Linked DNA regions of Homo sapiens. The protein of the gene in region 1 purifies or fractionates together with the protein of each later gene. This does not show direct contact. Each region holds a gene or a part of one and is shown in the gene's direction. Other genes may lie near its edges. The genes, in order: SUCLG2, ZNF146, SDHA and ANXA5.

The links.
Region 2: the proteins of SUCLG2 (region 1) and ZNF146 purify together in Homo sapiens (affinity purification with mass spectrometry; 3 studies listed by BioGRID and IntAct, with this or other methods). This does not show direct contact.
Region 3: the proteins of SUCLG2 (region 1) and SDHA fractionate together in Homo sapiens (co-fractionation; 3 studies listed by BioGRID, with this or other methods). This does not show direct contact.
Region 4: the proteins of SUCLG2 (region 1) and ANXA5 purify together in Homo sapiens (affinity purification with mass spectrometry; 2 studies listed by BioGRID, with this or other methods). This does not show direct contact.

Annotation. Positions count from the first base shown.
Region 1 is NC_000003.12:67,651,592-67,659,180, reverse strand, and holds the start of SUCLG2 (succinate--CoA ligase [GDP-forming] subunit beta, mitochondrial isoform 2 precursor), read left to right. Parts: upstream 1-4,568; 5' UTR 4,569-4,594; coding exon 4,595-4,678; intron 4,679-7,589. UniProt on the Homo sapiens protein: GTP-specific succinyl-CoA synthetase functions in the citric acid cycle (TCA), coupling the hydrolysis of succinyl-CoA to the synthesis of GTP and thus represents the only step of substrate-level phosphorylation in the TCA.
Region 2 is NC_000019.10:36,211,160-36,218,111, forward strand, and holds the start of ZNF146 (zinc finger protein OZF), read left to right. Parts: upstream 1-3,946; 5' UTR 3,947-4,037; intron 4,038-6,952.
Region 3 is NC_000005.10:249,294-256,319, forward strand, and holds part of SDHA (succinate dehydrogenase [ubiquinone] flavoprotein subunit, mitochondrial), read left to right. Parts: intron 1-1,698; coding exon 1,699-1,810; intron 1,811-2,044; coding exon 2,045-2,175; intron 2,176-5,099; coding exon 5,100-5,213; intron 5,214-7,026. UniProt on the Homo sapiens protein: Flavoprotein (FP) subunit of succinate dehydrogenase (SDH) that is involved in complex II of the mitochondrial electron transport chain and is responsible for transferring electrons from succinate to ubiquinone (coenzyme Q).
Region 4 is NC_000004.12:121,672,978-121,680,003, reverse strand, and holds part of ANXA5 (annexin A5), read left to right. Parts: exon of another isoform or gene 1-1,509; coding exon 1,510-1,589; intron 1,590-2,053; coding exon 2,054-2,110; intron 2,111-7,026. UniProt on the Homo sapiens protein: This protein is an anticoagulant protein that acts as an indirect inhibitor of the thromboplastin-specific complex, which is involved in the blood coagulation cascade.

The DNA of each region.
Region 1 (7,589 bases):
CTATCCTCTTCTTGGAGGCAACCACTTTAGACTCTTAATACTTTTGTCTGGCATTTGTACATCTCTGTAATTCTCCAGTGCTATCAAGATAAATTACAAAGTGTCAGGGGTCTCCTAACCTACATCTCAGATTGGCCCTAGTGTTTCACATTTGATATCAAGCAAATATTTGTTATGGACCCACTAGAGGAAGAAAAAGAACATCTATGAAGTCTTTACTATGTGCAAGGTCTTTACATGCAACATCTGATCATTGACTACTTACTACTACCCTATGAACCAGGTATTTTCCTAGTCACAGGTGTTCAAGGGGGTGGAGGTCAGATTTGAATCCAATCCAGTTTGGCTGAAAACTTAATGCTTGTTCCAGGAAAGCACAGTGCAGAACTCTGGTAGAATCTAGATTCCCTGTTCTCAAAGAGATTCCTATTTGGGGGAGGTTGGAGGGTGGAAGCGGGGAGTATGAAATAGGGAGAAATCTTACGAGGAACTCTATAATGCAATTCATTCCACATATGTTTATTGATTACTTTTTCTAATCAAAGTCCAGTGCTAGACACTGGAGGTGCTACATAAATGGTTCTCTTTCTTCCTTCTGTCCCTTCTCCCCTACCACCTTCCTGCAGAGAAGGCAGAATGAGATAATACGAGTAAAGACACTGAGGAATTGCTGATGAAAGATTTGGACCCCAGAACCAAGGATGAGACAGTCTTCCAATTCAGACAGGAAAACTCTTAGGAGGCTGCTAACCCTGGAAAGACCCCAAGTTACGCACCAGTAGATAGTAAACAAATCAAAGAATACCAAATGTACTTGGATGACAATCAGAAAGCCTCTCCCGACTCCACTTTCAAAAATCCCCCCATAATAGAATAATCGCATCTTAAAAGAACACTCATCAATCAAAGACAGTCTTAAGAGTCTCTCCTTTATCTCTATAAAACTAACACTTCTTTCAAACGACTTCTAGTCTCATTTGGAAGGAAAGTGATAGTAGCCAACTCCCTTAGCATAGTAACGTCTGAATAAACAGCCTTTGATTAATTCTATAGGTGGTCTTCCTCCTTTTGGCAAAATGTTCACAAGCTCTCACCAAGTTTAAACGTTCACTCTCAAACATTAGCAAGTCTTTGCTCTATCCCGGCGGACCCAGTAGGGGTAATGATGAACAATATGGAAACTCAAATCCAGTTTTGTCAAGAGGAGGGTGCTAAGAGTGATTGGAGTCCAGCTTTGGGAAATTTGATCCCAAGCTGTGTCACCCTTGGCAAGTTACTTGACCTTAGAGTCATGTAAATGTCATGTGGAACTCTGTGGCCAAGTTTCTCTCTGGCAAAATGGGAATAATAGTAGGACCCCATTTGCAGGGCTCCTGTGAAGATTAAATGACTGAAAACAGAGGCAGCAGAGTGTATGTATCAGGAAAGAGCATCGGTTTGCCATTTAATAAAAAAGAATCCATGAGTCCACAGTGATACAAGTGAATAAAACAATTCACCGACGAATAGTGTTACAGTGAACTAAATATGGCCTAAGGAGGACTCGGTACTTCTATATTTGAGTCCTTGTGGACGAACTGCAACCTAGCTTAATAGGTAGACAAGATTGAAAACCTAACTTAGAAGTATGGACCTAAAACAACAGCTAAGTCTTGGCAATCCCAGTGGCCATATTTTAACCATTTATACATTGCTGAGTGTTCAAACTGTGTAAGGCAAATGCCAAGCTGTAACCAATCCAGCTGTTCTGTACCTCACTTCTGATTTCTGTAAGTCATTTCCCTTTTTTCCTCTATAAATCTTCTTCCACCACGTGGCTGCGCTGGAGTCTCTGTGAATCCACTGTGATTCTGGGAGCTGCCCGATTGGCGAACCGTTCATTGCTCAATTAAACTCCTTTACATTTAATTTAGCTGAAGTTTTTCTTTCATCAATGGAGATGATGGAAAGAGTGCAGTTTTTCTGAGTAGAATACAGACTAATAAATGTAGGATGGAGTTAGACCTTGCCACTTTGCCACCATCGTGACAATAATTGATTTAAACAATCATCATCATCCTTATCATCAAAAGATGCTACATCTAGTGGGTAAAACTATGTCTCGAAATGGGCTAGAAATTATATTAAAATAAAAATCCTCAGCTCCCCCACTTTCCAAAGAGAGAGATTAGGAAAGAAGCTAGTAGCAACAGCTGTCTACTTATGTCACATTGTACCTTTTTTCATGATCATATGCTCAAGAATGAGTAAGGTTAAAAAAAAAAATCTAAAATAGTGCTTAATTTGGGGGTGGGTGGAAGGGATGTGAATCTCATCTCTTATCAGACCTGCCACCTCTGGCAAGTTACTTAACCTCTGTGCACCTCAGTTTTCTCTTCTGCAAAATGGGGATTGTACACTTCTACTCATTTAAAACTTTGCTATGAAGACTAAACAAGTTTATATTTGTCTAATGCTTGGCACACATTCAGTAACTTTGCTGTTGTTTTTATTATATGCACATTGCTTAGACTCGCGTAAACTCTGTGAAAGGGAAATAATCTTGGGACTCCCAAATCACTAAGGTAAAGGGAAAAGTTAAGGTGGGAACTGCTTAGGGCAAACCTGCCTCCCATTCTATTCAAAGTCATCCCTCTGCTCACAGAGATAGACGCACAGCTGATTGCTTCCTTTGGAAAGGCCAATCAGAAACCCAAAAGAATGCAACCCTTTGTGTCTTATCTACCCATAACCTAGAAGCCCCTCCTTGCTTCCAGTTGTCTCGCTTTTCTGGACCAAACCAATGTACATTTTACATATATTGATGTCTCATATCTCCCTAAAATGTATAAAACCAAGCTGTGTCCTCCACCACACCTTGGGCACATGTCAGGACCTCCTGAGGCTGTGTCACAGGCACGTGTCCTTAACTGTGGCCAAATAAACTTCTTAAATTGATTGAGACCTGTGTCAGGTATTTGGGGTTCACAGCTCCAAATGAATGTTGCTTTTATCACTCTGATTACTGGGCTTAAAATCCTCCAATAGCTTTGTGTCCGGAATTGGTTCCTTCCCGTGGGTTCTTAATCGTCTCGCTGACTTCCAGAATGAAACTGCAGACCCTCGCGGTAAAGATGGCGTGACCAGAATTTGTTCCTGCAGATGTTCAAATGTATCTGGGGTTTCTTCCTTCCGGTGGGTTCGTGGTCTCGCTGACTTCAGGAGTGAAGCCGCAGACTTCACAGTGAGTGTTACAGCTCTTAAAGGTGGCCCGTCCGGAGTTGTTTGTTCCTGCCTGTGGGTTCGTGGTCTCGCTGACTTCACGAATGAAGCTGCAGACCTTTGCAGTGAGTGTTACAGCCCTCGAAGGTGGGGCATACGGAGTTGTTCATTCCTCCCAGTGGGTTCGCAGTCTCCCTGACCTCAGGAGTGAAACTGCAAACCTTTGTGGTGAGTGTTATAGCTCATAAGGATAGTGCGGACCCAAACAGTGAACAGCAGCAAGAGCTACTGCAAAAAGCAAAAGCACAAAGCAACCACAACCTGGAAGGAGACCCCAACTAGGGGCCACTACTGGCGCCGGTGTCCAGCTTTTATTCCCTTATTTGGCCCCACCCTCATCCTGCTGATTGGTCCATTTTACAGAGTGCCAATTGGTCCATTTTACAGAGTGCTGATTGGTCCCTTTTTAAAGAGTGCTGATTGGTGCATTTACAAACGTTTAGCTAGACACAGAGCGCTGATTGGTGCGTTTTTACAGAGTGCCGATTGGTGTGTTTACAAACCTTTAGCCAGACACAGAGCACTGATTGGTGCATTTACAATCCTTTAGCTAACAGAAAAGTTCTCCAAGTCCCCACCTGATTAGCTAGACACAGAGGGCTGGCTGGTGTATTTACAAACCTTTAGCTAGACACAGAGCGCTGATTGGTGCATTTACAATCATTTAGCTAGACAGAGAAGTTCTCCAAGTCCCCAACCGACCCACCCGGCTTCATCTCTCAGCTTTACATTGATTTTAGGTTAAGGATAGAACAAAACAAAACACCCACAACTCCTTAAGGGATGGAGAGCCTCCAATGGCCTCTCCTTGACTCACCTGAAGCCCTGGGCTGCAGGAACCTCACCTGTCTCTATTCGTTAAAGTCTCAGCTCAAACACCACTGTCCCAGATAGGCCTCGTGACCGCAGGACTAGACCACGGTTCTCTGCGGAGGGCGTCAGCTCCGTGAGCCACCCTTCCAGCACCCACTGCCATGGCGAATATTTGCTTGTTTGGCCATCCAGGGACTGTTTGAGCCCCAAGACCGCAGGGCTCGGGGTCTGTCTTTGCTCAGGACGATAACCTGGGGACTGGACAGTAGGCCCTCAGGCCTTGGGACCGCTCAAAGTGAACCGGGGCCGGGTGGGGGACCCAGGGCTCTGCAGCCTTAAGAACGCCTGTGCCCCCGGGACGCAGGGGTCAGGCCCGGCCCGGCCCAGACCGCCTCTGCCTCCTCCTCCTTTTCCTCCCCGCGCCCGCTTCTCCTCTGACCCCTCCTCCCGCTGCTCCTCCTCCGCCTCCTTCCCCTGCCCGCGCCCGCCCTACTGCCCCGTGCCGAGTTTCCTGTTTAAGATGGCGTCCCCCGTAGCAGCGCAGGCCGGGAAGCTTCTGCGAGCCCTAGCGCTGCGGCCCCGCTTCCTGGCGGCCGGGTCCCAGGTGAGCGTGGGGGCAGGAGCTGCGGGCGCCAGCAGCGGCGCCGGCCTGCCCGGGCTTCCCTCGCCCCCTGCTACTCTTGGTCTCCGCCTGACCCCCTGCGCGGCCCCTCGGGCGCCCCACTTCGGGAGGTGACGCGGCGCCGGGTCCAGGCGCAGCAGGGAACCCCGCTCCAGTGTGGGGCAGGGGCGGCGCGGCGGCAGCCCCGGGTGCCTCGGGGTATGAGCGACCCAACGCACTAGAGTCTCCGCTGTCTGCCCGCGCAGACTCATGGCGAAGGCGCTGAAGCAGGCGCTGGACGCAAGTTTAAGAAAAGTTTCTTGGACCGGGTTTTGGAGCCCTGAGGTTTTATTGTCAGCTCTACTAATTCTGCTTTTCAAACTTCTGGCACTAACCCTGAGCACGTTTAGACCACGTGATAAACATGCCTGGAAACCCGTTTCAGCCCAACTAGGAACTCACCCCCTAGGGTGAACTTCCTGCAGGCTACCTGCTTTTGCAGACTTTTAATGTGCCTGAGTTGGTCAAATCCGTGGGTCAAGGAGAAAAATGGGAAACGATCTTTCTCCTCTTTCCAATGAAAAATCAGGGCTGTCACTAAAACGCATTAGACCATTGACCCTGTCCATGTCCTCCTTGTTGATGGAGAATGAAATCAAAGAGGGTCAGTGGTGGGCTGGATAGCGATTGGAACTTGGCCTCTAGCAGATTTTTACCTTCTGCAGATGGCAAGCGTTAAAATAGTCAGAAGGACTTCAGGAAAGTTTTGAGTTGGTGATGACTCTTGTAGAAATCACTCAACCACTGAACTGGTTAGTCTCCGTAGACTATCTCTCTTCCCTTTTAAAGAAAGCACAGTCTGGGATTCAGCCACAGCAGAGTTAATGACCTTGCCTATTTCCCCATTTTTAATTGATGAGAGGCAAATTATCACTCATACAATTTTAACCAGGATGTGCATAGTATAGTTTTTTAGAAAATTTAAAAAATAGTGATTAATGATTTTTTGAGTTCCTCTAAACTTTGGTTATGACATCTGTGAGCTATTTTTACCCCTCTCCTTTCATTTCCTGCCTCCCCATTTCTCTGTTATTGTTAATGTAAATTTAAAAGGTGCTAATACTTACTACTGTAATATTCTTAATAGGTGCTTGACAGTATAGTGAGGTAGCAAAAGGAATGGCAGTTTTGTCTAATTAAAACTCACTAATAACTGTTGTAATAGAGTAAGGAGAATAGCTCTAGGAGATGAAGTCCTATTCATTATTTAAGTGTTAGAAAAAACAAGAACTAGGGTGCTTACCATGAGTGTAGACTTGAATTGATGAGAAACATGGGGCCCAGGGCAGTGAAAACTCATGAATTGTACAGAGAAACTGAAAATGCAGAGTGTTTAGCTGAAATATGTGAAGCCTACTTCCCTAACCAAGAAATAAGAGGCTGAACGCAACACAGGAGAAAATCTGGTTGGGGAGAGATACTCTTGGTTTGTCAAGAAAACTGGGTAAAAAGATCTGTTAGCACGCCCCATCTGGTTACTGTGATTTACATATTTGTGGATGATGTGTTTTTCTGTAAATTCTTAGAAGGTAAAAGTAGGTTTTTTTAAAGATAGAAAGGTACACAGTGTCCAAGAACTGGAAATGGACATTAGCAATCATTTAGTCCAGCCAGCTCATTTCATGGGTAGAGAAATTGAGGCCTAAAGAAGTTCAATGACATATTCAACGATACAGTGAGAGTTTGTGGCATTCCAGAGTAAAGGCTTACCTTTACGTTTCCGTTACACCATGCTGTTTCCTGGTGAGTATATACTTCCTCATGAAAATATATTATATCAACATGCAAATTAATCTGCATGCCAGTAGTAACTATATAACATCCAAGTCATTAGCACCACTGACACATTTTTATTTTTTTCTTTATGACCATCTTAGAATTGTCCATAAAAATGGTGAGTATTGCTATTTTCAAATTCTTGGGTGCTTCCTATGATCTGTTTCATGTACACTGATTTGATATTACGTTTCCATAGTCCCTTGCCCGTGGCAGACATTGCAGTTAAACATGGCCCACTTCTCTCATCATACTTAAGAATCCTCACCAAGTGTCTCAGAAATCTGTTGCCACTCTTGGCCCAGACCTATTTTATACCACCAGGCCTTGTGAAAAACTGTTGTCTGTACAGAAATAAAAGACCCAGTTTCTGCTTAGAGAAATAACTTTAACTGGTCTCTCAAAGATACCCATAGAATGACATTTTGTCTACCTCCTCCCTATGGTTAAATTTAACATTTGACACATATTCCTGATGCTTAGTGTCATTGAAGTTTTTTTTTTTTTTTCACCTTTGCTGTTAGCTTTACTGTTTTGACTTTTGATTGATAGTACGTCCTTAAAGGGTCCACTTTAGTCATTTCTTATTTTTCATATAGTTTTTATTCAGCCCATACCATTTGGCAGGACTGTTGTAGGCCCTGGGGTTTGGGGATGGTGAATGAGGCAGGCAGAGTCTTTGGCCACGTGATACTTTATTTTAATGGAGGTGGGAGAGAGTGAGCCAGTACACATATAACCAATAATGAAAATGATTTCAGCCAATGACAGATTCTGTGAAGAAAATCAGTCAGGGTCATGGGATGGAGAATGGATTGCTTCACAGCAGGGTAGTTTAGACTGGATGATCAGAGGAGACCTATTTGATATGGTGTGTTTTTGATTGGCATAATTTTTTAAACTGAAATATAAGACATACTGAAAAATGAACAATTACAAATGAACAACTTGATGAATTTTCATAAACTGAATGCAAACCCAGCTAACTAGGTACAGATGAAGAAAACGATCATTTAACAACAACCCAGAGGCCCCCTGGTGCTCCTGCCTGTCACTACCTCCACCCTACAAAGGGTCA
Region 2 (6,952 bases), on another chromosome or scaffold:
AGGCCAGGCGAGGTGGCTCACGCCTATAATCCCAGCATTTTGGGAGGCCAAGGTGGGCAGATCACCTGAGATCAGGAGTTCGAGACCAGCCTGTCCAACATGGTGAAATCCCATCTCTACTAAAAATACAATTATTAGCCGGGCGTGGTGGTGTGTGCCTGTAATCCCAGAAACTTGGGAGGCTGAGGCAGGAGAATCGCTTGAATCCAGGAGGCAGAGGCTGCAGTGAGCTGAGATCATGTCACTGCATTCCCAGCCTGGGCAACAAGAGCCAAACTCCAACTCTCTCTCACACACACACACACACACACACACACACACACACACAATTCTAATTAATAAACATAGAAGTGGCCGGGCGCGGTGGCTCACGCCTGTAATCCCAGTACTTTGGGAGGCCAAGGTGGGTGGATCACGAGGTTAGGAGATCGAGACCATCCTGGCTAACACGGTGAAACCCCATCTCTACTAAAAATACAAAAAATTAGCCAGGCGCGGTGGCAGGCACCTGTAGTCCCAACTACTCGGGAGGCTGAGGCAGGAGAATCGCATGAACCAGGGAGGCGGAGCTTGCAGTGAGCCGAGCTCGCGCCACTGCACTCCAGCCTGGGTGACAGAGCAAGACTCTGTCTCAAAAAAAACAAAAAAAAAAAGAAGAAAAAATAAACATAGAAGTGATGATGGAAACAAACCCCAAAACCCCACCATTTGACAAATAGCTGGTAACAACTTTTTCAGGCAAGCGTCATCAACGGATAAGACTAATAGATGAAAGGAGGATAAGAAACGGGATATTCACATAGGCTTAAAGTATTTCTTCACAAGACATGTATCAATTATAATGGGAAAAACAGTGACTTTGCAGCAGAGAAATCTGGCAATCACCGTCTTAACCAAGCGGTTAAAATTAATACCACTCATAGTGTAACGAATTGACCTCGTGGGTCCCTGGCATGATGCGCCGAGAAGGGTACATCGCTTTCGGAGTATTCTTGCCCCAAAGGCAGAATCTGAATTTAATCAACAGGAAATATCAGACAATTCCAAAGAGAGGAACATTCTACACTGCAGACTCTACAAAACAAATGGCCAACATGGTGAAACCCTGTCTCTACTAAAAATACAAAAAATTGGCTAGGCGTGTCAAAGGAGTTACAAAAAGGAAAATGGAGACCAGACATGGTGGTTCACATCTCTAACCCAGCACTTTGGGATGCTGAGGGAGGAGGATCACTTGAGGCCAGGAGTTCGAGACCAGTCTGGCCAACATGGTGAAACCCCCCTCCCCCCGTCTCTACTAAAATTACAAAAAATCAGCTGGGCACGATGGCATTTGTCTGTAATCTCAGCTTCTCAGGAGGCTGACGCAGGAGAATCGCTTGAGCCTGCGAGGTGGAGGTTGCAGTGAGCTGAGATCACAGCACTGCACTCCAGCATGGGTGACAGAGCAGGACTCCGTCTCAAAAAAAAAAAAAGAGCAAATGGGAATTCTATTGTTGCTACATTTTAAAGTCTTAAATTCAAAATGAAAAGTAAAGAAAAAAATTTAAAAGAACATTAGGTATGCAGGGAGCAGGGAGGATATAGGCCTTTCAGTCCATCTCCAAGGCACGCAGTAAATTACTCCTATGGCAAATACTGGAGACCAGGTTACTTTGGTAGGGGTGAGGGTGGTGGTGGGGTGGTTCTGAAGTTTCAGAAGAAGGAAAGAAAAGCATGTCCTGAAAAACAAGAAGGATTTCAGAGAAATAAGAATAAAACCTGATGTACTTGAACTTGGCACCTTTCTTGGAGAAGGGTTAAGAGCAAGGAATCATGAACAACCAGGTCATTTTTGAACCACCATCCTCCTTACCTACCATATAGGGAAGTGTGGTCACAGAACACCAGGCATCTGCCTAAATCCAGTGTCACTCAGAAGGCTGAGGTCACTCCTGTCCAGGGCCAGAATCTGTCCTAACTTCAAAGGTTCTGCATGGGTCAAGCACTAGAGTCACTGGCACACTTGGTGCTGCACATACAGTCAGTGTCACACAAACATAACCACACATCCACTCTTTTATTTTTTTGAGACAGGGTCTCGCTCTGTCACCTAGACTGGAATGCAGTGGTTCAAACACGGCTCACTGCAGCCTTGACCTCTCAAGCTCGAGATCCTCCCACCTCAGCTTCCCGGGTAGCTGGGACCACAGGTGTGGGCCACCACACTCAGATAATTTTTAATTTTTTGTTTGTTTGTTTTTGAGACGAAGTCTCGCTCTTGTCCCCCAGGCTGGAGTGCGATGGCGCGATCTCGGCTCACTGCAACCTCTGCCTCCTGGGTTCAAGCGATTCTCCTGCCTCAGCCCCCTGAGCAGCTGGGATTACAGGCACCTGCCACCACGCCCAGCTAATTTTTGTATTTTTAGTAGAGACAGGGTTTTATCGTGTTGGCCAGGCTGGTCTAGAACTCCTGACCTCAGGTGATCCACCCGCCTCGGCCTCCCAAAGTGCTGGGATTACAGGTGTGAGCCACCGTGCCAGCCATTAATTTTTTTTTTTTTTTTTTGTACAGGCCAGGCTGGTCTCGAACTCCTGGGCTCAAGTGATCCTCCCACCTCGGCCTCCCAAAGGGCTGATGTGAGCCACCACACCCGGCCCTACATCCACTCCTGAGACACAGGACACAATCACAGACACCTCTATACCTTTCCAGTCACAATATCTTTCCAGTCACAATCACACACCCGCTAAGACACACCCAGTCACACAATCTACTCTCCACTGTGATACAGTTACTCCCGTATAGTCACAAGCCCCACACACCAACACCCACAAATGCCTCATATAGTCACAGTCACACACCCACTCAGGGGACACACGCCATCACTGGTACTTTACGGCACCCAGTCACAACTGAACTTTCACTGTGGACATACACACAGTCACACTCACACAAGCAACCCACACAAGCAGTGGCACCCCACTCCCGCATACACAGCACCACACACATACACACAAACACACACACCAAGGGATACAGGAATACACAAGCGGCGTCACCACACAGTCACAGGCACAGGCAATTGCACACGGCCACAGTGTCACACAACCAAAACCACGCACACACCTTGGAGACATGAATCACAACCGCACACCCGCAGTGGTCACACAGTCACAACTGTACTCACACCCCAGGAACAGGGCGAACAGGCCACATATACAACGGGGACACACGCAGTATCACCCCCGGTCACAAGGACCCTGCACCCCGATACTCTCTATCACACATGGTTACACAAAAACCACCAGACACCCTGGAGACAGGCGGTTACACGTGCACAGTTGCAGACACCCACACCCAGCCACACAGCCACAAAGACACATTCAGAACGGCGCATCCGCAGCCAGCTCCCGCCTGCGCGCACAGATTCGAGGCTCCGGACACGCCCCGGCCCCGCCCAGGACTCCCAGACCCCTCACCTTCTGCCTCCCCTGGTCGCGTCCGGGTCCTTGCGGAGCTAACTAGCTCGCCACGACGTCAAGAACGACGTAACGTCAGGCCGCTGTGGGCTCTGGGAATTGTAGTCCAGAGCTAGATCGGCCACGGACAGAATGGCGTTCTCTTATCTCTGAGTCGGGGCCTGGCTCGTTTTGACATTTTTGCGCCCACGAGTCTTCGGAGAGGGCGTCGCCACTCCAGACCTTCCAGCAAGCTTGAAGTCATCTGACGCTAAAGGACTACTTACCTCAAGAGCTCCATCGTCACAGAAGGAGGCGGCCAAGTTCGCGGGGGGAGGGGAGGAGACAGAGAGTCGACCAGTAAAGCCTCAAGGGAAATGTAGTCCAAGGCCTGAGAAGCGACGTTGCTGGTAATAGAAGGTAATTCAGTACCAGCCTGGGCCTGGCCGCGGTGACCGAGGCGGGCCGCGTCGCGGAGACTTCTGGGAGTGCTTCCTCGCTCTCCGAGTGCGCAAGCGCAGCGCACCGAGTGGACATTTTGGTCTTTGTCCGCGGGTCAGTACGGCCCCTGGGTCCACGTGGCGCGAAAGTAGGAGGTGGGATCTGGGCGTCTCGGGTCGGTCGGACCGGGGAGGTTAAAGGGGAGGATTCCTGATCTTTAGGGGCGCGGCGCGAGGGCAGGGAGTGGGTGTAAGAGCTTCTGGCCTACGTGCGGGGCGGAGATGGGGGCCTCTGAGGCGGGTTTGAGCGAGTGTGACCGAGTTTGTCCTCAAAGTTTGACCTGATGTTTGGGATTGTTGAGTGAATGTGAAACTGGGTGCGGGATTGTGTGTGATTGTGCCTAAGAGGGAGATGTAGGAGACCAGCATTGAGGTATAACGTTTGAGCTGCACTTCCCTTGTCGAAAGTGCTGATAATTATAACGGTGCCATCTTCCTGGAGCGTCTTTTTTACTTGAAAATTGAAGGGGTGGAAAAGCTAAGTGGTGAATAATTTTAAAACGAGTTTTTATATAAAAGCATTTCTTTTTAATTGGAGTGGCATGCAAATCACCGTGACTTTTTTTTTTAATTAAACGAGAGTGTTTCGAAGGAACTTTAGTTTCGGGGTGCCTACTTCAGACTATTCAAATCCCCATCTTTGGGGTACTTAAATAGGGCTGTTAAGCAAAGCCCTAGACTAAACAGCATTGTACGCTTTGAGAAGCAATCCCATATAACGGCGCCCAGGATGAGGGAGTCAACGGTTTTAGGTTAGGCACAGTTATCCTCATTTTTTGAAGAAAGCTTAATTGTTGCAGTGTTTATCTATGAGTCTGGACTAAATCCTAGGTGTCTTAATTCCTTAATGAGTCGAGGCGTTCTCAGGTTGTATGGATTTTGTGAAGTAATGGAGAATGCTACTGACGTCTCCAAAGATGCGTTTTCTAAGGAAATCACCCCGCCCCCGCTGTCGTCATTGACATAGTTTTAAATTACAAAAAGTTAAATAAAGTAATTGGGTACCAAGTTAATATCTATAAATAAATAGCCTTCTAATTTACAAATATCAGTTAGAATACATAGTTGAAGAAAACTAATATTTACAATAGCAGTAAAAAGATAAAGTATTGTGGAAGAAACTTAAAGGTTCAGAACTATTAGGAAAGAACTTTAAAATACTACTAAGGGGCATAACAAATGTGAACAAATAAATATACCATGTGACATTAAGAAGTGTGCGCAAACTTAAGTGAATGTATTAATTTACTGTGATCTTGGTCGGGTGCGGTGGCTCATGCCTGTAATCCTAGCACTTTGGGAGGCCGAGATGGGTGGATTACCTGAGATCAGGAGTTCGAGAGGAGCCTGGCCAACATGGTGAAACCCTGTCTCTACTAAAAAAAAATAAAATAAAAAAATACAAAAATTAGCCGGGCGTGGTGGCGGGCGCCTGTAATCTGAGCTACCGCGGAGGCTGAGGCAGGAAAATCGCTTGAACCTGGGAGGCGGAGGTTGCAGTGAGCCCAGATCTCGCCACTGCACTCCAGCCTGGACAAGAGCGAGATTCCGTCTCAATAATAGTAATAATGTGATCCTAATAAAAGTATGGACAGGCTTTTCTCTTTTGGAACTAGGGGAACTGATCCTAGACTTACTATGGAAAGAGACAAGCTGCAAGAGCCAGTACAGACTGAGAAAGAAAAGGCGTTGAGGTGTGGGGAGATGGGGACCCAACACATTTTAAATATAAAGCCTCAGGCCGGGCTTGGTGGCTCACACCTGTGAGCCAAGGCAGGAGGATGGCTAGAGTCCAGGAGTTAGAGACCAGCTTGGGCGACATAGTGAGATCTCCCGTAGTCCTAGCTGCTTGGGAGGCTGAGGTGGGAGGATCACTTGAGCCTAGGAGGTCAAGGCTGCAGTGAGCAGAGATCCTGGCGACAGCATTCCAGCTTGGTGGACAGCCAGTCCCTGTCTTTTTTTTTTTTTTTTTTTTTTTTTGAGATGGAGTCTCTCTCTCTTGCCCAGTCTAGAGTGCAGTGGCCCAATCTCTGCTCCCTGCAACCTCTGCCCCCCAGGTTCAAGCGATTCTCTTGGCTCAGCCTCCCGAGTAGCTGGGATTAGTTGCCTGCCACCACACCCGGCTACTTTTTTTGTATTTTTAGTAGAGACAGGGTTTTACCATGTTGGCCAGGCTGGTCTTGAACTCTTGACCTCAAGTGATCGGCCCGCCTCGGCTTCCCAAAGTGCTAGGATTACAGGCATGAACCACGGTGCCTGGCCGACCCTGTCTTAAGAAAGAAAGAAAGGAGAGAGAGAGAAGAAAGAAAAGAAAAACAGTTCATGCCCATCAGTGGGAGATTGGTGTACATCGATACAACAAAATAATACATAGCTGTACAAAAGAATGAGGAGGAAGCTCTTTATATACTGAGACAGAAATAACTTCAAAATGTATTGTTAACTGAGAGAAAGCAAGGTGCAGAATGTAGAGTATGATACACGATGCATTTGGAATAAGAAAAGGGGTAATAAGAATATGTATTTATAATCCCAGCACTTTGGGAGGCCAACGCAGGCGGATCACCTGAGGTCAGGAGTTTGAGACCAGCGTGACCAACATGGAGAAACCCCGTCTCTACTAAAAATACAAAATTAGCCAGGCGTGGCGGCACATGCCTGTTAATCCCAGCTACTTGGGAGGCTGAGGCAAGATAATTGCTTGAACCCGGGAGGCGGAGGTTGCAGTGAACAGAGATTGCGCCATTGCACTCCAACCTGGGCAACGAGAGTGAAACTCCATCTCAAAAAAAAAAAAAAAAATTCAAAAGATACATACGAAATAATAAAACTGGCTGTTGGGGTGGGGGTACTGGAATAGACAGGGCAAAGGCTTTGTATTTTTAGTAGAGACGGGGTTTCACCATGGTGACCAGGCTGGTCTCGAACTCCTGACCTCATGTGATCTGCCTGCCTCAGCCTCCCAAAGTACTGGGATTACAGGCATGAGCTAATTTTTTTTTTTTTTTTTT
Region 3 (7,026 bases), on another chromosome or scaffold:
TTATCACTTTGCAAAACAAATAAAGGGGACACGTTGGGAACAGGCCCCCCAATGTGGCCATAAACTGTCCCCAAAACTGGCCATAAACAAAATCTCTGCAGCACTCTGACATGCTCTTGATGGCCATGATGCCCACGCTGGAAGGTTGTCGGTTTACTGGAATGAGGGCAAGGGACACCTGGCCCACCCAGGGTGGAAAACCGTTTAAGGCATTCTTAAACCACAAACAATAGCATGAGCGATCTGTGCCTTAAGGACATTTTCCTGCTGCAGATAACTAGCCAGAGCCCATCCTTTTGTTTCCCGTAAGGAATACTTTTAGTAAATCTTATCACTGGCTTGCTGTCAATAAATATGTGGGTAAATCTCTGTTCAAGGCTCTCAGCTCTGAAGGCTGTAAGACCCCTGATTTCCCACTTCACATGCTGTATTTCTGTGTGTGTGTCTTTAATTCCTCCAGCACCGCTGGGTTAGGGTCTCCACAACCGAGCTGGTCTCAGCAGTAAATATTGAAAAGGAATAGATACAATTGTCATTATTTACAGATAGAATTTCCAAACAATTCCCAGGGAATAAACTGAAAAACTAACAGAAACAAAACAAGAATGTAGTAAGGTGTCTGGATAAGAGATTTGTATCTAAAAATCAGTAGCTTTACAATGTGCCAGCAGTAGTCTGCTCAGACATCAGTAAATATCTCATTCACATTTCAAAAAAAATTGAAAATGCCCTGAAATAATGTAACCAGAAATACGAAAAAAAGGATATGAAAACATGTGGCTGCTAATGGACATGAAAGAATGTAATACTAGATTCTGAGATGCAATGTTTTTCATTTGTTCTTCCTGAAAAACCATTAGGTTGATGTGCATTACAGTGTTACGATTATGTATGAGTCTAAGGAAAATCAGATGAAATGTCCAAATTAAACCATGAAGGTGCATTGGTAGAGGAAGAGAAAATTAGGGTCAGTGGAGCAAAGCACAGTTAGAGGGAGAAGCAAGGAGGAGGAGGGATCACTGAGGTGGTGCCTGTCCCACAGGAAGCAAAAGCTGACGCCTAGTTCCCAGCATACCTACAGTAAACTTCAGGTCCACTGCATAGCACGTCTCTCATCACAGTAAAACTATGAAGGAACTCAGTGTACAAGGAGCTTCTACAAGATAGGCAGAAGACAGTAGCCAGATGGGCCAAGGGCCCCAGCCACCCACGCCCCTCCCTCTCCTTGAAGACGTGCAGCTCCAACACCACCATCACCAGGGCTCTGCTCAGCTCCTCCTAGTGTGTATCACCACAGGGCTGCTGGCTTGTGTCACGTTCACCACCAGACCCCGCGTCAGGAGTCCCGCCAGGGGTGTGGAGAGGCAGCGCTGCCTGGTTGGCCGTGGAGCTGTATGGAACATGGTGCCTCACAGGCAGTCTGCTTGGAGTCCTGGACCCTGGCTGTATCCTGCTGGAAAGGATGTGTGTGGGTCTAAGATGTGTATGTAATAGAAACATTTATTTATTCAGAAGCTTTAGTCAAAACTTCATTTTTAAGTTTGGAGTAATAAACTCATAGTCTGAATTTCCTAATTTTTCTGTTTAATTTATGTAACTTTTAAGTGAAATGCAAAACAACAGGTCTAAAAGTTAAGCAGTTCTTGGTATGGCTGCTTCTATGGATTAAAAGTTTACAAATAATATTTTGTGCCACAGTCAATGCAAAATCATGCTGCCGTGTTCCGTGTGGGAAGCGTGTTGCAAGAAGGTTGTGGGAAAATCAGCAAGCTCTATGGAGACCTAAAGCACCTGAAGACGTTCGACCGGGGTGAGCAGACAGTGGGCTCTGTGCACACTGTTGGGCCCTTCCTTCTGCAGGGTGGGCTGGTGTCTGTCCCGTCAGTGCTGACTTAGTTCCGTGCTTGCTGTCTGGATGGGTCCTGGCCCACAGCTATAAAGCCACAACCAGTGACTCCATGGACTAGCAGGCCCAGGCTGACAGCTCGGAGGGCCCATGTGACTGGGTCCCGCCTGCCCCTGATGGAACTTTTTGTGTCCCCAGGAATGGTCTGGAACACGGACCTGGTGGAGACCCTGGAGCTGCAGAACCTGATGCTGTGTGCGCTGCAGACCATCTACGGAGCAGAGGCACGGAAGGAGTCACGGGGCGCGCATGCCAGGGAAGACTACAAGGTGGGCCTTCTCACCACGCCCACCTGCACCTGCCTTTTCCTGCCACCTGGTGGGACTCAGCCCCACCCCTGCATTTTCTCTGCATTTTCTTTCGTTGCCCCAAAAGTAAATCCAAAAAATGCCTTTTTCCCCCCTGGTAACTTTGATCCCTGGGTTCTCGCCATCTTCTGGATCACTGTGACCTTTTCCTTGCTTTGGGTCGGCATCCACTGATGCCAGCAGTGGCATCTCCAAGCCAATGTGCTTTGCTGTTAGAAGGCCAAGGTTAGAAGTGCAGCTAGAGTGGCAAGACCAGGAAATAAATGCCAGTTTATTAAATAACGAGTAAGCCATCATTTCAAGCCTGCCCTGTGGAGGAAATGCCAGTTTATTAAATAACGAGTAAGCCACCGTTTCAAACCTGCCCTGTGGAGGAAATGCCAGTTTATTAAATAACGAGTAAGCCACCGTTTCAAACCTGCCCTGTGGAGGAAATGCCAGTTTATTAAATAACGAGTAAGCCACCGTTTCAAGCCTGCCCTGTGGAGGAAATGCCAGTTTATTAAATAACGAGTAAGCCACCGTTTCAGACCTGCCCTGTGGTGGAAATGCCAGTTTATTAAATAACGAGTAAGCCACTGTTTCAAACCTGCCCTGTGGAGGAAATGCCAGTTTATTAACGAGTAAGTCACTGTTTCAAACCTGTCCTGTGGAGGAAATGCCAGTTTATTAACGAATAAGCCACCGTTTCAAACCTGCCCTGTGAAGGAAATGCCAGTTTATTAAATAAGGAGTAAGCCACCGTTTCAAGCCTGCCCTGTGGAGGAAATGCCCGTTTATTAAATAACGAGTAAGCCACCGTTTCAAGCCTGCCCTGTGGAGGAAATGCCCGTTTATTAAATAAGGAGTAAGCCACCATTTCAAGCCTGCCCTGTGGAGGAAATGCCAGTTTATTAAATAACGAGTAAGCCACCGTTTCAAGCCTGCCCTGTGGAGGAAATGCCAGTTTATTAAATAACGAGTAAGCCACCATTTCAAACCTGCCCTGTGGAGGAAATGCCAGTTTATTAACGAGTAAGTCACCGTTTCAAACCTGCCCTGTGGAGGAAATGCCAGTTTAGTAACGAGTAAGTCACCGTTTTAAGCCTGTCCTGTGGAGGAAATGCCAGTTTATTAACGAGTAAGCCACCGTTTCAAACCTGCCCTGTGGAGGAAGTGCCAGTTTATTAAATAATGAGTAAGTCACCGTTTCAAGCCTGCCCTGTGGAGGAAATGCCAGTTTATTAAATAACGAGTAAGTCACCGTTTCATACCTGCCCTGTGGAGGAAATGCCAGTTTATTAACGAGTAAGCCACCGTTTCAGACCTGCCCTGTGGAGGAAAATGCCAGTTTATTAACAAGTAAGTCACTGTTTCAGACCTGCCCTGTGGATGAAATGCCAGTTTATTAATGAGTAAGTCACCATTTCAGACCTGCGCTGTGGAGGAAATGCCAGTTTATTAAATAAGGAGTAAGCCACCATTTCAGACCTGTCCTGTGGTTTGGAAAAGGTATTATAGAGCCTGCCCTGTGGTCACTTGTTCTTCAGATGAACTGATTTTTGTGCAGAGCGCACGTGTTGGATTCTGCCTGGTAAGAGTTTTTCCCATATGATAGCAAAAAACGACGGAAAGGGAAGCTTGGGATGCAAATGCAAGTTCAGGATAAACCACATCAGCAAAAGGACAAAGGCTCCACAAGGCAGGCGCACAGGCTGGTTCAGGACCGTGTGTAGGCGGCTGGTGGCAGCCTTTCCAGTCAGCTGAACATGGTGAATGGGAAAATCATTTTTATTCACCATGAAATTTTACTGATTTACCCTCCACTAGAATATGCTGATGGCTGTGATCACTGCTCAGAACTTGCTCTTGTCTCCTTGTATGTATTAAGAGTTTCCTGCAAAGTATATGAATCCGTGTTTGCCAGAATACAGAATAATAGTAAATTTATTATTTTTATTTTTATTTTTTTGAGAAGGAATCTCACTGTCCCCCAGGCTGGAGTGCAGTGGCGTGATCTCAGCTCACTGCAACCTCTGCCTCCCGGGTTCAAGTGATTCTCCTGCCTCAGCCTCCCAAGCAGCTGGGATTACAGACACACTGCCACCATGCCTAATTTTGTATTTTCAGTAGAGATGGGGTTTCACCATATTGGCCGGGCTGGTCTCGAACTCCTGACCTCAAGTGAACCACCCACCTCGGCCTCCCAAAGTGCTAGGGTTACAGGCATGAGCCACTGTGCCTGGCCAGTGCATAAATTTAGTTGGTCACAGTCAGTTTTAATTAGAATAGAAGCCAGGTGCAGTGCCTCACACCTGTAATCCCAGCATTTGGGAGGCTGAGGCAGGCCAATGACTTGAGCCCCAGAGTTGTAGACCAGCCTGGGCAACATGGCGAAACGTGTCTCTACAAAAACATAAAAAATGAGCCAGGTGTGGTGGTAGCACAGGAGGCTGAGGCAGGAGGATTGATTGAGCCTGGGAAGTCAAGGCTCCGGCAAGCTGTGATCACACCACTGCACTCCAGCCCAGGTGACATAGCCAGACCCTGTCTCAAAAAAAAAATTTTTTTTTAATAAAAACAGGCTGAAAGAAAAGATTGAGGTAGTCTCCCAGCACATGGAGCAAAAAGACAAAGTATTTGATAAACTCTTAGGTACATAAAGGATGCTTAAGGGAACATGCGGACATGGATTACTGTGGACTCACTGCTGGCTGCACACCCCCTGGCCAGCCATGCGGCCTCCGTGGGTTCTGAACATGTTGATGGTGCCAACCTCCTGGGCTGAAGTGGAAATGGAATGAGTTCTAGGGCATCTGTCTCTTAGATCATGTTAATGTCTGCTGTGTTTTTTCTGTATTGCTCTGTTAGAGTAATAAGAAACGTGATGGTGTTTCTGGCCTCAGGTGCGGATTGATGAGTACGATTACTCCAAGCCCATCCAGGGGCAACAGAAGAAGCCCTTTGAGGAGCACTGGAGGAAGCACACCCTGTCCTATGTGGACGTTGGCACTGGGAAGGTCAGTGTGGAGCTCGTTCTCACCACAGCCCAGCACCCACACGGCCCCGCCCAGGCCTGCGGGCTGGCCTTGCTGATGGTGAACGGGGAAGAGCAGGCCAGATTTAAATCAACTCCCGACAGATTCGAGGCACCGCTGAAAAAGGCACTCCGACAGCAGTCGGGCTTCGGGCTGGAAACAGAATCCAGTTCCTGCAGGTGGTTCAGAGGAGCCTTAAGGAAGGGTTGCTCCGTGGTGTGCGCCAGATGGACGTCACTGGGCAGGAGCAAGTGTCCAAGGCCTGGTGGTAGGGGAGGAGATGATGATTGTGGACCTAGCGAGAAAGCATCTGTGGGGTGGGGACACACAGCCATTACCAGAAACCAGTCCCACGTTAAGGGAGCCCAGAAGAGACACCTCCCCTCTCCTCCCACGGGCTGGGCCAACTGGAAGCGTCTGCAGGGGAGCTGAGGGGATGTGGTGCAGCCTTTAGCATCCCCTGGGCACTGAGCAAGCAGAGAAGGGCAGAAATGGAGGTGGGGTTGGGGTGAGCAGTGTCCTGGGAACAGCCAGCCGAGGGTGTGGTAGGGGGTCGCAGCCTTTTTCCACACACGGTGAGCAGCGTCCTGGGAACAGCCAGCCGAGGGTGTGGTAGGGGGGTCGCAGCCTTGTTCCACACAAGCACAGTTCACCTGTGTGGCATTTCCGCTGGGCATTAAGATTCAGAAATAATGAAGATAGAAAGCTTTTACCCTTAAACTTTTCATAGCTTGTAAGAGTCGTATAATCACTTAGCTGTGTCTGTGGAAGTTACCTTTGGACTCTCACTATCATCTAGTGTGTCTGTGATTCAGGCAGTAGGTCATTTTCAGGACTTCTCATGAAGGCCATTTCTTGATAGTGTATAGAAATCACACTTCACTCGCTTAGCACAAGTCTATTTTTAATGTTTCCGGGTTCGGGTTTTTTGGTTTTTTTTTGTTTTTCTGAGATAGAGTCTCATCTCTGTTGCCCAGGCTGATATGTGTTGGCTTGATCTCGTCTCACTGCAGCCTCAACCTCCCCCAGGCTCAGGTGATCCTCCCACCTCAGCTTCCTGGGCACATGGCACCATGCCTGGCTAATTTTTATATGTTTTGTAGAGATGGGGTTTCTCCACGTTGCCCAGGCTAGTCTTGAACTCCTGCGCTCAAGTGATCCACCTGTCTTGGCCTCCCAACAGGCATGAACCAACACCCCCAGCCAGTTTTAGTGATTTTTCAAGAAATACATACTCATTTTAGAAAGTACAAAGAGATTGAAATAAGAGCTCACTAACCAGAGACGACCCATTATGGTTTAAATTTCTTTGTATATGTGCCTACCTTTTCCTGTGTGTGCATATTTAATACACAGCTTGAGTATTCCTTCTCTGAAATCCTTGGGACCAGAAGCGTTGTGGATTTCAGGCTTGTTCAGACTTTGGAATATTTGCATTATACTTACTGTCTGAGCATCCCTAATCGGAAGATCTGACTCCATAGCACATTTCTTTTGAATGTCATGCTGGTGCTCAGAAAGTTTCAGATTTTAGAGAATTTCAGATTTTTGGATTAGGGATGTTCAACCTATATAAATATTTACTTTGAAGTAGAAAAACTGGAAGTAGATGGTTTAAACATAAAGTGTCTTGGTATAGACAAGGGTTCTCCCACTTTACATGATGGGAGCATTTTTGTAAAGCACTGAGAATCTTAAAGTTCACATGCCATAAATCTACTTTTATAGTTAAAATTTTTCAAAAGGAACACAAGAGATGGCTTTTTGTACATTTTTGTGCTTAACTTACCACTGA
Region 4 (7,026 bases), on another chromosome or scaffold:
GTTAGGCAGGATGAATAAGTTCTGGGGATCTCATGAACAGCGTGGTGACTATAGTGAAAGTATAACTATTATATGCTTGAAATTTGTGAATACAGTATATTTTAAATGTCCTCACCACACACAAAAATATAGACTATATGAAGTGATGGATATGCTGATTAACTTGATTGTGGTAATCATTTCACAACGTACACATATATGAAAACATCATGGTGTATACCTTAAATATATACAATTTTTATTTGTCCATCATAACTCAATAAAGCTGGGAAAAAAAGACTAGGTGCATTTTGAGTAGGTAGAAAAGATATTTTTGGGTGAGGTACTGCCTGTCTTTAATGGCATGGAGACTGGACTGTGGAGAGTGTATTGAGGGACGGAGAGGGCCTGGCTGCTGTGGAGGATGTGTGCATGTCCATTGTGGGAGGTAAATGGAACAAGCGAGGTTAGGCTCAGATATAGATGGTTTTGCATGACTGGATTAGGAATTTGGACTTAATTCACAGGCACTGTAAATTCCTGAATGAGCAGTGGAGTGCTGAAGGAACAATTGAGGGAGGAAGGAGATTTGAATTGAGAGGCTAATTGGATAGTTATGTGTGTGGGAGGTAAGCTAGGTATTTAGGAATTGTGGCCCAACCTAGGTGAGTGAGAGGTGTGAGGAGGATAAATCAGGGACAGGAGAAACGTGATAGGATTTAATGGTTAATATTTACAGGTGTTGGTGTAGAAGAAAGAATTAAAGATTCCTACAAGGTTTTGTATTTGGGTAACTTGTTGAAATAAACATGTAACTCTTCTGGGCCTTTTAAAATAGAAGTTTCAGGCTTTTAAAGTTCGTTTGCTTTTGCATAATAATTAAATATTTAAATACCTTAGAGTAAGGCCTCCTTTCCTTTAATAGCATCTGTTTGAGAGTAGTGAGAAAGACTTGTAGACTCTTGTAGATCCCAGTTCTCCCCTTTTATATGGGCTTACATTGAGCAGCTGGAAATAGAGGTGGGAGGGGGGCCTACTTTAAAATATCATTGCTGTCTCTCAAGAGTTAACTTTATTTCTGCAGAGGAAAAATACCTTATTAGGAGTGATGGCCATGCCCAAAGAAATAAATCTCAGAATATTAGAGATAGAAGACATTTGGAAGCTAACCATATAAAAGATTTGAAAGAAAGCAAAACAGAGTTTAAGCTTATGATTGATTGTGTTTTGGAGACTTTCCAGTACCATCATGTATCTATAGATTAATGACTACATTGGTCGAGAGAATTTCTAAATGGCTGAGTCTTGATTTAAGTTTGAATTGAGTGCCTTTGGGAGACTTTAATTCATTTTTGTCCAACCACTCACTGAAAGCATTTGCTTAGAGCATTCAGAGATGGAATAGAGGGAATTTATGTTAACCAAATATAATTATTTCTTCTTTTACATCGCTTTCATTTGATTAATGGGGCAAGATTACTTTTCTAGTTGAAAGAAGATGTAAATAAGTATGAAATTATTTTGTTGCAGAATATGGCTCAAGCCTGGAAGATGACGTGGTGGGGGACACTTCAGGGTACTACCAGCGGATGTTGGTGGTTCTCCTTCAGGTATTGCGTGGAGATTAATTACAGTTTGATTAAAAAGCCTGAAGTTGGACTGGGCTGAATCTAGTTAAGTAAGGTCACTTAAAATTCTTTTAATAATTTGTGGTACTTGCTGATTCTTACTGCGATGATTCTGACTGTATGTTGCCTGTGCTTGTTTGTGTTTCAGAATATCTGGTCTAAATTCTTAACAGCTAACTCATACATGTTTTAGATAGTAGTATCTTGTTCCTTTCATAGAATGATAGCGGTATCTTGTTCTTTCATAGAATTTAAAATCAGTAGGGTCATTATTGGTTTTGGACAGTGCTGGGTGATGATAACGTGAAATAGTGCAGGATTGATCTTAATAAAAGCATATTATTCCTAGAGAAAGAGTGTTATTGAATAACCATCAGGTGGAACCATTTTTCCTTTTGAATGAGAATGCTCTATAGTTCAGTAATGTGACATATTACCTCTCATAGGCTAACAGAGACCCTGATGCTGGAATTGATGAAGCTCAAGTTGAACAAGATGCTCAGGTGAGTGACACCAGGATATGATGACTTTATTATGCTGTAGAAATGAAGAAATAATTCATGGTAATGAAAAATCACAATGTATGTTGTAATAGCTTCTAGTGATAATCTTGTTAATGGGTTATTTACATAGCATAAGACCTACATAAGTAGCTTTTTCTTATTCTGACCTGGTCAGCAAAATATTTTACCTTAAAGCTGAAACGAAATAAAATAAATTATATAGTGAGTTCCAACTAGACATGTTTTTTTTTGTGATTATTGAACATTCACAAAATAGAGAATTTTACCAAAAAACAGTGTTATTACTTCCACTGCCAATTATGCAGTGGGTCTCTTAGCAGGAGAAGATAAAGAAGAAAGAATAAAGTATTTAACAGTAAGTGGTGTTTAATTACATAAGAGATGACAAGTTATTTTGGTATTAGGAAATTTCTCTGCATTTCCTTCGACAGAATTTTAAGTAGGATTGGTCTTCTGTCAGCAGCTTTTTAGTGACTCCAAATGAAAATTTCCTCTTAAGTGACTTATAAACCCCTATAAAGTCTCAGTCTGGTTAATAAAACAGTTATTAAAATATAGGAAAGGAAATTTGAAACATGAGAGCTGAAAACTGGAAATTGGTAATAAAGGAATTACTTGGGTTCCTAGAACCACCAATCATAGACCTCTTTCTGGTCACATGTTTCAATTAAGAGAATATACAATTCTTGGTTGTTTGTCATGTATCATTGAAAAAGGAAGAGCCATATTCATTCCTCCAGTGGAACAACCCATGGATATGCGATCTCACTTTGCTAACAGGAAAGAGGAGAGCGGTTATTCTTTTGGGTAGGTTGATTTTATAATGGTTTCAGAATGCTGTCATCTCTGTCTAGCTGGAGAGAAAAAAAGAACTGAATGTTTACCGAGGGCTCTCTGTGCAGTATTTGACTCTTGCTTCACTCTGTCTTAGAAAATGCAAGCCAATTGTGTCCAGCCCCTTCAGACTCTGGTGGTTCCATTGCCCTCAGGATAAAGTCCGGGTTCCTGAATGGGTTACAAGCCCCTTTGTTATCTGTGTGTTGTTTACTTATGCCTCCAGCCTCTCTCACATGCTCTCTCTGCCCTCTTGCCCCTCCCACCCCGCTTCACCTGAGTCCTCTTCAAGAGTCAGTCTTCAGCTTAGATACTTTAGAGTTAGGTGCCCCTCACAGGGAAAACCATACCCCCCCCCGCCCCCAGGCTTCCTGTCACAGTTCTTGCCACGTTCTCTGGAAGCCATCTATTTACTTCACTGCCTTCCTGGGCCCCCTGAGCTGTCAGTTCAATTGTATCCTCAGCTTCTGGCATAGAGTAGGTGCTCAGTAAATAACTGATGAATGAATGAGCACATAACTCTACCAGAAAGGGGCAATTTCCCTTTTATGGATAAAGAAACAAACCCATGGCTTCCACTGAATAGCAGTGGAGTTGGAATTCCTAACGAGGCCTGTCTGACTCCAAAGCTCTTTCTCTTTCACTAGAAGATAGTCAGTGTTATTGAATATTAATATTTCACTATAAGAATATTTCACTGTAAGATATTCAGTGTTCTTGAGTATTAGTGCCTTCCCTGATTTTCTCTATCATTAAAGGGCTTATTAAATATCAACTCAAGCATAGATCTAGCTTAATTCCACCTTCTTTCGGGAAGAGGGCTAGAGCAACCCTACAGAGTTGTACTCCTGTTAGGGGCTTTGTTCAGTACTGAGGTGATCTTACTGCTTTCCAAGCATTGGTTGTGGCTTTGCTAGGAGATAGTGCTGATTCTCTCATTCCTACTGTCAAGAGTAGGATAGGAGTTCTGGGAGCTTTTCAGGGTCACAGTGTAAGAAACCAACTCTAGTCCTCTCAGATGTCTGCAGTGAGGCCTGCATTCACAGGCAGAGGGCAGATTTCCCAGCATAGTTGGTGATGTAATGAGAGCATTGCTGCAGCACGAGGCTCCTGAGGGGAAAACAGTACATTTTAACCTTGTTTTCATTGATTTCTGTCCTTGGAGCACTTACTGGATAGCACTGCTGCTCAAACTTTCATGGGCATGTGGCGCACCTGGGACCTTTAATTGCAGATTCTGATTCTATGGGTCTGGGCAGGGGCTGGGAGTCTGGATTTTGAACATGCTCTCAGGTAATGCCTGCATTCTTGGTCCTTTGATTACTGAGGCTGTATAGGTGACACTTACGTGTCATGCAGTGGATATAACCATTCAGAACCCTGAGAGTACATGTGAGACTGTACATGTGAAAACTGCTTTATGGAGTTACTTTAAAGTATCCCTTGAATGGAATCCAAGCTTTTCTTAGCCTTCCAGTGACTAGGAGCAATACAGAACATGTTACACTGGCTATTATTTTTGATTCTTTCAAATGTATTATTATTAATTAATAAACCTGTTGAAAACAAATAATCTTTTGGCATTATAAAAAGGAACACACCAACTTGTACCTCGTAGCAAGGGCAGCTGGACTGTTATCACTAGTGAGAATTTGAGATTTCTTAATTGAGAGTAAGCTGAGACAGCTAAAGGGCTCTTTTATAAGCTTTTGCATTTTTGTCTCTACTGATACCTGGCACTAAGAAGATTTCTATTATTTGAGAGGTTTGATAAGCCATAGTGAGTCATTCACTTGGGAACTGAACGTTTTGTAGATAATCCACTTTTTAACATTTTTAATGTGTTAAATTGATTTAATACTTTTAATGCATTAAAACAGATTTACCTTCTTCCCCAGTAAATCCTTGTTTTATTCTTTCTCTGGAGGGAGAGTTGAACTCTTAGAGGAAAGAGGGAGAAGGAGAAGTAATCAGGCACTTTTTACTTTTACTGGGCATTTGCTACTGATTACCTGACACTGTTCAGTGCATTATCTTAGTTATATAATCTCCGTTAATGACTATATACACTGAGGCTGAAGAGGAGATTAAGTAGTTCATCTGAGATCTTGCAGATAGACCACATCTGTTTTGACTCCAAAGACTCATCCTTTGCACTGAACCAGGGCTTATGAAACTGTACTCAGGCTGAACCGTAAAGCTTAGGGAAGGGGTGTAAGGGTCCCTCATCCAGATGGATCCATGAATATTGGGCATCCTCATTTAGGAGAAAGGATACTTAGATTAAAACAAAACTGTTAAATATCATTGTTTTACATGAAGAAGCCATCATTATTATTGCATATGATTACTTAATAATAGTTTTACAGTAGATATTGATCCCAAACATAATTCTCCCAAGAAAATTAAAACATTGTGGTAAAAATAACTGACATCTCACCAATTATTCCCATATAACAGGCTTAACTCCTGTACCTACTAGAGAACATTTCTAGACATTTAAAACAGTTGATAAGAAGTGTGTGCATCAATGTCTGTGATATTGTACAAGATGAGTCCTTTACCCATTTAGGTGTTAATGTATTTGTATATTTTATCTACATGTAGAAACATACCAGAAGTAGTAACTAGCACCCTCAGGAAATTGATATTAAATAGCAACTTTTCTTTTCTTTCCTTTCTCTTTCCCCTTTCTCCTTTTTCCTTTTCTTTCCTTCACCTTTCCTTCCCCTCCCATTTCCTTACCCTCCCCTTTCCTTCCCCTCCCTTCTCCTTCCTATCCCCTCTCCCTCCCCTCCCCTCTCCCTCCCCTCCCTTCTCCTTTCCGCCCCTCTCCCTCCCCTCCCCTCCCCTCCCTCTTCCCCTTTCCTTTCCTTCGTGCCCAGGCTGGAGTGCAGTGCCATGATCTAGGCTCACTGCAACCTCTGCCTCCTGGGTTCAAACAATTCTCTTGCCACAGCCTCCCGGGTAGCTGGGATTACAGGCATCTGCCACCGTGCCTGGATAAGTTTTGTATTTTTAGTAGAGACAGGTTTTGACAGGTTGCCCAGGCTGGTCTTGAACTCCTGGGCTCAAGCGATCCACCTGCCTCAGCGTCCCAAAATGCTGGGATTACAGGCATGAGCCACTATGCCTAGCCTGCAACTTCTATTTTCTTATTTTTGTTCTTTCTTAGTTTTATAAAATTTCTCAATGAACTTGCGTTGTTTTTGTAATTAAATTTTAAAAGTTATTTTAAGAAAGGTCTGTGTCATCATGATATAGTTCTAAAGTTTAGATGCATGCATGACTTTCAGAGTTACTGTCTTTTCAGGTTTTAAGAGCATGTTCACATGGCCAGAATTGATATTATTCATTTTTATCTTTAAAATAATTAATTTTAAAATTGAGCATAAAGATACATGAGTCTCATTTTTTTCTTATTCTCCAGAAATATAATAAAAAATAGATCTTTACCACCATAATCTACATTTTTAAATATACTGTGATCAAAACTTCTATATTCAAGCCTGTTATTATCACTTCCTGTCTTTATTTGGATTGCTGCTTGTGGGTATAAGGCCAACTGCAAGTAGCAGCCTCAGCAAATTGCATTCATCTTGCTTTAATATGTAGACTTAGTTTGAAATGAATAAAAGGATAGTACAGTCATTGTAAAGGTTGATTCTTTGGGTTTTAATAAATTATTCTCACGTCAATAAGTGGATTCAGAGTTAACGTTGATGTTTGTATATAAGCTTATTTTTTTAGGCAGCTATACGTGCACAAGAAAGCATATTTTTTCCCCATGTCAAAAAGGAAGTATGGGCACTCAAACTATTCAACCACTACTTATTGAGTGCTTCTATATGCCAGGCACTGTGCTATACCCACAATCTTTTAAAAATTTATTGTGATCTTTGGAAATATGAAAACATTTTATAGCTAGCCTTGGTTAAATCTCAGTTGTAAAGAGAAAATATGAAGTGTACTTTTACTCATGTGCTATTGAACAGCTATAGAACAAGCAAAACAGAAAAGGCAGACAACTTAGCTTCCAGTTAAATCCTTTCCCAGTCTAT